Linked DNA regions of Homo sapiens. The protein of the gene in region 1 interacts with the protein of each later gene in a pairwise test. Each region holds a gene or a part of one and is shown in the gene's direction. Other genes may lie near its edges.

Region 1 (2,822 bases):
ATCACTATGGGGTTAACATAGCATCTCTTCTCTAAAATGCTCAGAGTATTACCTTTCAAAATAAAATTGAACCTCAAGACAGACCAGAGAACAGAGTGCCTTCCTCAAAGTGCACTTTAACACCAATTTTAAAAAAAAAAAAAAAAAAAAAAAAAAACAGGACATTCAAACCCACTTTATAACACATTTCATTATAACTCTCAACATTAGTATATTCTTCCTAAGTACCTACCCAAATCCTTCAACTGTCCCTTCATGTCCATGAATTGAAGTCCCCTTCAAAACCTTTCTAGACCCTAGGGACTGTGATTTACACCCTAGGAGAAATACACAACTTTCCCTATTGGAATTTGTTACATTATACTAGCAAGCAAATGCCGATTCTCTCTCCCTTTGCAATTAGCTAAGATGTAATTAGGTTGCCAAGCAGCCAACACGAAACAAGTACAGGCTGACCATACACTAGAACCATTTTAGAAGCTTTGGTTCAAAGCTACAGTAGAGTTGTGAGAAAGAATCTACTCTGATGCTTATCTGAGAGGAACGCAAGAGATTTGCTGCCCTCTTACAAAAAGTGCACAGAAGTTTCTAGACCAACCAAATTCCCAGATTTGAGGTTTTAGTACCAGAAAGACCTGAAGTGACCTCAAAGGACAATACTCTATGGATCTTTAGCTCTCAAGACTTGAAAAGAACTTTCCTCACAGTGTATCTCAGAAGACCCCAGTGGAAACACTAAATCAAAGCAACGTATTTCTTTGGACCTAATGGCCCCAAGAAGCTATTCTCAGGGGGGAGGAATCTGTCAAGTTTTTATACTTTTCATTCCTGCACCTGATGGGAGAACAACTCTGTATAGAGAACTCTCCCATCTGTATAGAAAGGTGCAGGAATCAAAGCTATCTTCAAATTTGCATCACCGCCTACACCACGGACAAGAAGAGGTAGATCAATTGGGGGTTGGAGGGAAGAACTGGAAACTCTCTTGGTTAGACTTTCTCGAAGATCTTTCCTGCCTGCCTCCTCATTCCCTGAATGCAACACAGACCTTGCATACATAAACTCATCTCCTGTTGTTTTACTGTATAACGAAGTTAGAAGTGAAGTGATGATGAAGACACAATAGTCTAATTCATTAGGACTTTTACTACTAGTACTACCATTAGGGAGACTGAGGGGAAAGTGAGTTTAAAGAGTAAACCATGGGAGAGACGACAGAGATGGAAAATATATACTTAGCACACTCTAGGGCTGAGTTGGTATTTTTGTACTTTCCAGATTAAACAAGCTTCATTGTTCACTCCTCTTGTTCTCTCTCTACACCTGTAACCCTTTTTAACTTTACAGATAAAACAAAAATGATCTACACAGCTGCCACAACTGAAGAAACAATTCCAGGAGCTCTGGGAAATGGCACCTACAAAGGGGAGGACTGCTCCCCTTGCACAGCCTAGCCCTTCCCCTGGTGGCCTGGATTCTGGTCCCAAAGCAATTCTGAAAGCCAGTGTGGTAAACTAGAGAGAGCAGCAAAAACACCAGTCTTGCCTGAGTCTTTCTCCAGCATTTCCAGTACATCTATCAGAATCATCAAGTCTTGGCCGGGAACACAGACAGGGTGTCTACCCAAGAAGCCTCACCTATCCCCAACTTAGAATTTGCTACTTATTTTAAAGACTTGTTCAGTGACTGTAAACTCTATGAAACCAGAAACCGAATCTGCCTCTTGCTGGGATCTCTAAAAGTGTCTGATAAGCATCTTAAAGTCACTCAATTCCTGAACTAATCAATATATATGTTTAACCCATTACTCAAATACCCAAATCCCATTCCAAGTTTTGTGACCCAAAAGAGAAATAAATGCTCACAAGTGCTGTAGAATTAAACTTCAGAAGTTCTAACCTAAAAAGTTCAGATCCTATTCCTTCCCTTTTGACATTATTGGGATGATGCTCCCGAAAAGTCAAATTTGACATCAAGTATGCAAAAGTGAACACAGTAAGATGCAATCAGGCAAAACAAACTCAAAAAATAGCTAATGAAATGAAAAAACTGGGCGAATGCATCATGTTAGTAGAGGAGGAAAACTTTTGACAAGGAAAAACCAGGAAACAAACACATACATTAACACAATGTTACCTCACTAATAATCTCTTTTTTAAGTTCAGTAGGTATTTGGTTTTAACACAAGGCGCCCCCAAAACTGGGTACAGCAAACTACTGCCAAAATGAGTCGTTTCCCAATTCAAAGAAAAATGTTCAAATACCTAGAATTCACAAATTTCAAATTGTCTCTAATAAAATTTAAACATTTTGCATATCATATGTAAATAAGGATCAAGTAAATGATTAACAACTAATATTAACAATTACAAAAAGTCAATCATGCTTATTAGTTACTTGGGATTTTTATCATTTTGTATGGTCAGGTACAAATGAAACCAAGACAATATAGTTTTCGGGTATCAGTTTGGCAAATGTGCAGGACTAACAAGTACTCCCAACACCAAAACGAGAAACACAGATTTGGGTTACTAACATCCTCTTAAAAACGCAGATTTTTGACAAGGCTACCACCTATCATTTTTACTTATTATATCCATATATACCTACCTGTTCAAATTGTTTTCTCTATTATCTAACCAACATCATCTGCTAGGAGACTTGGTTACATACAAGTTATGTAAGAACACATTTGTTTAGCTTTTGAGGAAGACAGGGTTGGCCTCAAACCATTCTTAGAAAGGAATAAAGATGGCCGGATGCAGTAGTTCACACCTGTAATCCCAGCACTTTGGGAGGCCGAGTCGGGCAGATCATGAGGT
Region 2 (3,659 bases), on another chromosome or scaffold:
GTTTTCCAGGACCTTGGCTGCTGTCTTGTCCTGGGGCTGCGCAGATAGGAAGGTTGACTTATAACCTGTCATTGCCAGTGCTGGGCCCTGGAGGGTGCTGGGTCCCTGTCACATTGTCCCTGTGTCTGTGTCTGTGCAGAGGTGCTTGTCAAGTGCATGTGCGGAACCAGCTGTCCTTTTACAGCAGAGTGTACTCTGAAAACAGCTTTATCAGGCAGCCTTCTGAAGAGTTTTGACCTGGGGCAGCTATATTGCAGCCGCAGCTTGCATACAGATGAGTTTCTAGGAAAAGGGAAGCAGGATCTGCCTGGCTGCTTTCCATCAGCACAGCACGCTTGTGACGGGCTCCCATGCTGCCTTTCTCCCGAGAGATTAAATGGAAATGTGGTAACTTTCAATTTTTGGCTCAATTTTTCTCCCATTCTCCCCATTCACTTTTTTATGATATTGGAAGAGGTTAGGTTTGCAGAAAAATAGTTCAGAAAGTGGGTTTTCTAATGCACAAAAACCAAAATCTTGTGATCTTTCTATTCTGGTTTGTTTTTTTTTTTTTAAAGAAATGCAAAAAGTTCTGGGAACACAGCTGTTTACCCATGTTAAAACCAGTATGTTTCTGTCTTTTTCCCCTTTCTGTTTCTGTCTCCCTTTTTAACGTGTAGCTGCAGATAGCAAGGATGAAGAAGTCAAGGTTGCCCCCAGGCGGTCCTTCCTGGGTATGTACCCTGCGCGTGCACTGTCCGCAGCACGTTCCTTTTGCTTCATTCCTGCAGCTGTACTTCCTCCTGTTGTTGCTTCCATCTGTGCATGTGCGTGCGTCATCTTTACCAAGCGTGGCCGAGTCTACAGCAAACTAATCAACTCCTAGCTCTGCTGTTTTCAAGCATGAAGTAGTTACTAGAAGCCTGTCCATGCTCTTCTGTGTGTGGGGAGATGGGGGCGGGAAGGGGAAGCAGGAGGGAGACAGGAAGGGAGGAGAAAAATTTAGATGACAAATTTTGGACTTTGTTAAATTTATTCCAAAGTATTTTATCCTTTTTGATGCTATTGTAAATGGAATTGTTTTCTTAATTTCAGTTCTGCTGCTTCATTGCTACTTTATAGAAATGTAATTGATCATTGCATGTTGATCTTGTATCATGCAATTCTGCTGAACTGGTTTGTTCTAAGAGTTGTTTAGTAGATTCTCTATATATGATTCTGTCATTTGCAAATATAGTTTTAATTCTTCCTTACCAATGTAGTTGCTTTTATTTCTTTTTATTGCTTATCCTGGTTATAGGCGGTGAGAGTGGATGCACCTATCTTATTCTTCATTTTAGTGAGAAAGCATTCCATCTTTCATCACTAAGTAGATGTTAGTTAATGGATTTTCCATAGTTGCCCTTCATTAGGTTAAGGCAGTTCCCTTTTATTCGAGTTTGTTGGGTGTTTTTATAATAAAAGAGTTTGCCAAATGCTTTTCGTGTCTGTTGAGATGATCATGTGGGTTTTATTTTTTATTCTACTATGATGATGTACTACATTGATTGATTTTTGTGTGTTGAACCAACCTTGCATTCTTGGGATAAATCCATGTGGTCATGGTGTCTAACACTTTTTATCTGTTGCTGGATTTTATTTGCTAGTATTGTATTGGGGATTTTTTGTATCTGTATTCGTAAGACATGATGGTCTGTAGTTTTCTTGTGATGACTTTGTCTAGATTTAGTATTAGGATAATACTGGCCTTATAGAATAAGTTGGGAAATGTTCCCCTCCTTTTCTATCTTTTTAGAGTTTGCAAAGGGTTGACACTAATTTCTCTTTAAATATTTTTAGAGTTATCCAGTGAAGCCATCTGGGCTTGGGCTTTTCTTTGTGGGAAGTTTTAAAATTACGAATTCAATCTCTTGTTATAAGTCTATTCAGATTTTTTGTTTCTTTGTAAGTCAGTTTTGGTAGTTTGTATTGGAATTTTTCCATTTCACCCAAGTTATCTAATTTGTTGACATATAATTTTTCTTAGTATTCCCTTATAATCCTTTGTATTTCTGGAAAGTCATTAGTAATGGTTCCTCTTTTATTCCTGACTTTAGTAATTTGATCCCCTCCTTTCCTTTCTTTTTTTGGTCAGTCTAGCTAAAAATTTGTCAATTTTTTGTTCTGGTCAAATAACCAACTTTTTAAAAGGTGTTTCTTTTTCTTTTCTTTCTTTCTTTCTTTCTTTTTTTAACACAACACATCCACATTGCCTATCAGAGAACCAATTTTTGGTTTTGTTCATTTTCTTTATTGTTTTTCTATTCTGTGTTTTATTTCACTCCAATATTCTTTCATTCCTTATGCTTGCTTTGGTTTTAATTTACTCTTTTTCTTAAGGTGGAGGTTAGAACATTGATTTTTTTTCTTTCTTCCTTTTTAATGTAGTTATTGACAGCCATAATTTCTCTCTAAGCAGGTGCTTTACCTGCATCCTATACTTTGGTGTGTTGTGTTTTTGTTTTCATGCACCTAAAAGTATTTTAAAATTTACTCCAAGATTTCTTCTTTGACCCACTTATTAGGAATGTGTTAACTTCCACATATTTGTGAATATCCCAAAATGTCTTCTGTTATCGATTTCAAATTTATTTCCATTATAATTGTAGAATATACTCTGTATTATTCCAGTACTTTTATTTATTTATTTTTAATATTTGGAGACAGAATCTTGCTCTGTTGGCTGTGGTGTGATCTTGGCTCACTGCAACCTCTGCCTCCTGAGTTCAAGCAATTCCTGTGCCTCAGCCTCCCAAGTAGCTGGGACTATAGGTGTGTGCCACCGTCCCTGGCCAATTTTTTTTGTATTTTTTGTAGAGACAGGGTTTTCACCATGTTTACCAGGCTGGTCTCAAACTCCAGAGCTCAGGGCACCCACCCACCACAGCCTCCCAAAGAGCTAGGATTATAGGCATGAGCAACCACGCCCAGCCAGATTCCAGTACTTTTAAATAGAGGCACATCTTATGGCCTAGCATATGATCTGTCCTGGAGAATATTCAATGTGCATTTTGCTGTGGTTGGGTGAAGGTGGAGGGTTGTCTGTTAGGTCAAGTCTATGATTTATTGTTCTTCTGTGTAGTTGTTACGTCCATTACTAAATGTGGGTGTGGAAGTCTGTAACTATTTTTGAATTATCTTTTTCTCTTTTCACTTCTGTCAGTTTTTGTTTGATGTATTTTGGGGCACTGTTGTTTGTTAGGGACGTATATGCATATTTTCTCTTTTGACATCTGTGTCTTCTGACGTTAGTGTCATCACATGCATGTCTCCTGTGGTTGCCATTTGATATATTCTTTCCATTGTTTTACTTTTAACTTTTTTATGTCTTTGAATTTAAAATGAGTCTTCTGTATACATACGATGGATCTTTAAAAAAAATCCATTCTGGCAATTCTGCCCTTTGATTTGATTGTTTATTTCATTCACACTTAATGTTATAATATGTTCAGATTTACATCTGCTACTTTACTTTCTGGTTTCTGTATATCCTATGCCTTTTCCCCTTAGCTGTTGCTCCTTTACAGCTTTCTTTTGTATTAAGTAAATATTTTCTAATGTAACATTTTAATTTCTTTAAATAATGTTTTCTGAATTATTTTCTTAGTAGTTACTTGAAGGCTTACAATATTCATCTTAAC
Region 3 (3,659 bases), on another chromosome or scaffold:
TAGGCCATGTTGTAGAACAGTGACATACACTTGAATAATTGTTCTTATGGCTGGATGCGTCACTCTTCCTAACTGCTTCTTACTATTTCATCCTCCTTTTAATAGGGGGTTGACCCAGGTCTTGGGCCTTGGGCCTGTTCATTATCCACATTCATTTTTTTGGTGACATCATTCAGGCCCGTGGCTTTAAATATTAATATCATCTACACACTGATGAGTTTATATTTCCAGTTTGGACTTGTCTTCTAAACTCTAGACATTGTATACAACTTCTTACTCCATACTAGTTGGCATCTTCAACATAACAGGTCCAAATTCAAACTTCCGCACACTCCTTCCCACCTCAAAACCACTCTTCCCACAGCCAGCCCCACCTCAATTAAAGGCAGCTCCATCTTCCATTTGTTCAAGGCAGAAATCTCTCAGTCATCCTTGAGTATTTTTTTCTCATACTCCAATCCAATAATGTCAGGAGCTCTACCTTCAGAGTATCGTGTGTGCCACATCTTAGCACCTCCACTGCCACCAGCCCCTCTGCTCATCTCTTCCTTGCAGTAGCCTTCTAACTGGTCTCTGCTGCCAGTCTTGTCTCTGGAGTCTGTTCTCAGATCCGCCACCAGGGAGGCTCTGTCAAGGCATTTAAGTCAAATACTTTTCTCAGAACTCCACAGTGGCTTCTCACGTCACCAGGAATAAAAGCCAAAGATTGTAAAACGGCCACAGGCTTCGTAAGACATGGAGCCTGTGTGACTTGATGTTGGGCCCAACCCTGTTTCTTTTCTGGCTTCATTTCTTGCTCCTTTTCTTTCAGACACTGGTCTTTTCACCATTCCTCAGGCCTGCCAGGCACCATCACTATCCTTGGGTCTTTACCCAAATGTTACTTTATGACCCTCATATGTACAATTGCATCTCAAGTTTGTATTCTCCACATTTCTCTGCTGCTTTCTCTCTTTCCATAATACCATCTGACATAGGTGTATCATTGTCAGCCTTCCTTCCTAGATGGAAGGCAGGGATTTTTGTCTGTTTTGTTTACTGGTATATCTCCAGAATTTAGAATGTCTGCCGCATAGAAAGTCGTCAGTAAACATTTACAGAATTCATTTTATTATGAAAGAAATTTTAATTTTGCTCTTAGGTTCATCTCTAACAAGTATTTAGTGAAACGACAGAGCAGAGACTATGATGTGGAATGGGGCTATGCTTTTGATGTGCATCTCAATGCTTTTTATCCACTCCTGGTCATTTTGCATTTTATCCAGCTTTTTTTCATCAACCGTAAGTAGCAGTTAATTAGAGTATTATCCAAGTCTTCATTGCATGCATTGGTAAAGGGACTCATGGTCTGCGTCTCTTCTGGCAGATGTTATCCTGACAGACACATTTATTGGATATTTAGTTGGAAATACCTTATGGTTGGTTGCAGTTGGCTATTATATCTATGTAACTTTCCTGGGATACAGTGGTAAGTAATTTTTTTAAATGTTTTTGGTTGAGAACATAGCAAGAGGGGGAAAGTTGTAACAGTAGTACAAACAGCTGCTTTTATGGAACACTTACAGGCACTATCCTAAGTATTTTATGTGCATTATCTCATTTAATCTTCATGACAATTACACAGGTTTGTTTCTGTTTTCAAATGAGGAAACTGAGGCAGAGAGATTAAGCAACTTACCCATGGTCATGCAGCTAGAAAATGGCCTAGCTGGTATATAACAGATTTTATACTTTCAAGGAAACATGTTAAACCATACTGGTTATCTCCAGATGACTTGCAGGAATCCAAGACCATTCACTCCTCTTCTCCCATGCTTTCAGGTTGTGGGTTACCAGCAGGAGGGTAGAGCGAAGAAAGGTGGGGCCCAGCATCTTGTTACATAGGTCTATGAACTGAAGTTCTCTAAAGCCTTTTGAATCATAACTTTTTGCCCCATTCTTAGTTTTCATGATTACCGTATGGTTCTGTAGACAATCACAGAAGATCGGGCCCAACATTTATTGTCCTCAGGACATGTTTGCAGATTTACTGTTAAATCCTGTTGTCAGTTCATTTTTCTTAATATGAATGAGGAACATATATTATTTTTCATTTATGTTAAGAAATGATCCCATTAAATAAAGCCAAATAAAATCTAGAGACTGCGCTGTACGTTTCTTACCCCTTCCTTTCCTGTTACTGTAGATGATTAGGGCCTAACTGTAAATACAGATGGCTCTGACTATGCCTGGCTCCGGAGTTATTCCCACCCCGGTTCTCTCCCCCCTTGGCTGGTTTGTCAGGGAACACTTAACCCCTTCATTGTAATGCCTTGTTTGGGGAGTGCTTTCTCTAGTCCAGGGGAGATGTTTGTGTCATTTCTAATGAATTTTGAAAGTGTTTTGTGATGAGAACACTGCAGCACTGTGGTTTCTCTAAGTGGTTATTTGAACACTCCTGGTAACGACCTATACCACTTAGAATAGTTGGAGTACAGCTCAGTTTGTTTAAGAACTTCCTATATGAGAAATACTTAGGTCGGGATGCATGGGGTAGGGTCCCGCTAACTAAGCAGTGAGCAAGAAACATCAATATTTGGAGCCAGACTTTTATATTTAAGAGTTTCAGTTCTTTTCTGAAGCCTGGGCTACTAGTTGAGCTCACACCCTCTTAAAGTGGGGGTATAATGCTTTACACTGGAAAATCTCAAATAGCTAAAAGATGTTTTCCTATAACGCCATCCATCTCTGTACTTTAAGTTGGACTCCTAGAGGTTTCTGAGGCAGTCACAAGTTTAAATTCACCACTGTTTTCATGAATATTTGTGACATTTCTCCCTCATTGTTAACCTCTCTTGGTCCAGTGTATGATGTCCCACTCAGCCTCTGTGCTGAAATAATTCCTCTCCTAGGTTTCTTCCCAGCCCTAGACAAGGAGGAAACAGCACAGAGGGGTTGGGAAGAGTAGTCTAGTTCTGGGCATAAATAGCATCATCTTACTGATTCAAAATATGCATTCCCTTCCACCCCACATGTTGAAGTAAGCTGTCTTTCAAAATGTTCATTTATTAGTCATTTATTTTTTTTTTTTTTTAAATCAGTTTGGATTCCTTTCTTTTCCAGCATTGCCATTTTTGAAAAATACAGTAATTCTTCTGTATCCATTTGCACCTCTGATTCTGCTCTACGGGCTTTCCCTGGCACTGGGATGGAACTTCACCCATACTCTCTGTTCTTTCTATAAGTACAGAGTGAAATAAAAAGTGAGAAGAAGATTCAATCGTAACTGTGTCAACAGTATTGTGAAGTGATCATTTCTTGTAAAACTTGTAAATAAACTATCATCTTTGTAGATATCTTAAAGGTGTAAAGTTTGCAAATTTGAAGAAATATATATTAACACTGTGGTCAGGTACATTCCTTAAAACTAATTAAATGTACATTTCTATAATAAATATTTTTTAAACTAAAGCATGTGTGTTCACTCTAATATTTGCAAATGTAAGAGCTACATGTAAAATGCTAATGGCATGGGGAAAACATAAACATAAAACAATATGAATTATTTTTGAAAGAGTATCATCTAGTTGGAGAACAAGGGAATAATCATACAGCCCCATCGCTCTCCTATTGACAAAGATGCATAATCTCCATTTCTAATTAGCTGTATTTTAAATACT

Evidence for each region.
Region 2: the proteins of SLC10A1 (region 1) and SLC66A2 interact in binary tests that used the Homo sapiens proteins (3 or more experiments, as listed by UniProt).
Region 3: the proteins of SLC10A1 (region 1) and UNC50 interact in binary tests that used the Homo sapiens proteins (3 or more experiments, as listed by UniProt).

The regions. Positions count from the first base shown.
Region 1 is NC_000014.9:69,774,914-69,777,735, reverse strand, and holds the end of SLC10A1 (hepatic sodium/bile acid cotransporter), read left to right. Parts: intron 1-1,347; coding exon 1,348-1,454; 3' UTR 1,455-2,320; downstream 2,321-2,822. UniProt on the Homo sapiens protein: As a major transporter of conjugated bile salts from plasma into the hepatocyte, it plays a key role in the enterohepatic circulation of bile salts necessary for the solubilization and absorption of dietary fat and fat-soluble vitamins.
Region 2 is NC_000018.10:79,931,023-79,934,681, reverse strand, and holds part of SLC66A2 (solute carrier family 66 member 2), read left to right. Parts: intron 1-659; coding exon 660-713; intron 714-3,659.
Region 3 is NC_000002.12:98,615,066-98,618,724, forward strand, and holds the end of UNC50 (protein unc-50 homolog), read left to right. Parts: intron 1-1,141; coding exon 1,142-1,281; intron 1,282-1,366; coding exon 1,367-1,468; intron 1,469-3,080; coding exon of another isoform or gene 3,081-3,102; coding exon 3,103-3,239; 3' UTR 3,240-3,450; downstream 3,451-3,659. UniProt on the Homo sapiens protein: Involved in the cell surface expression of neuronal nicotinic receptors. Binds RNA.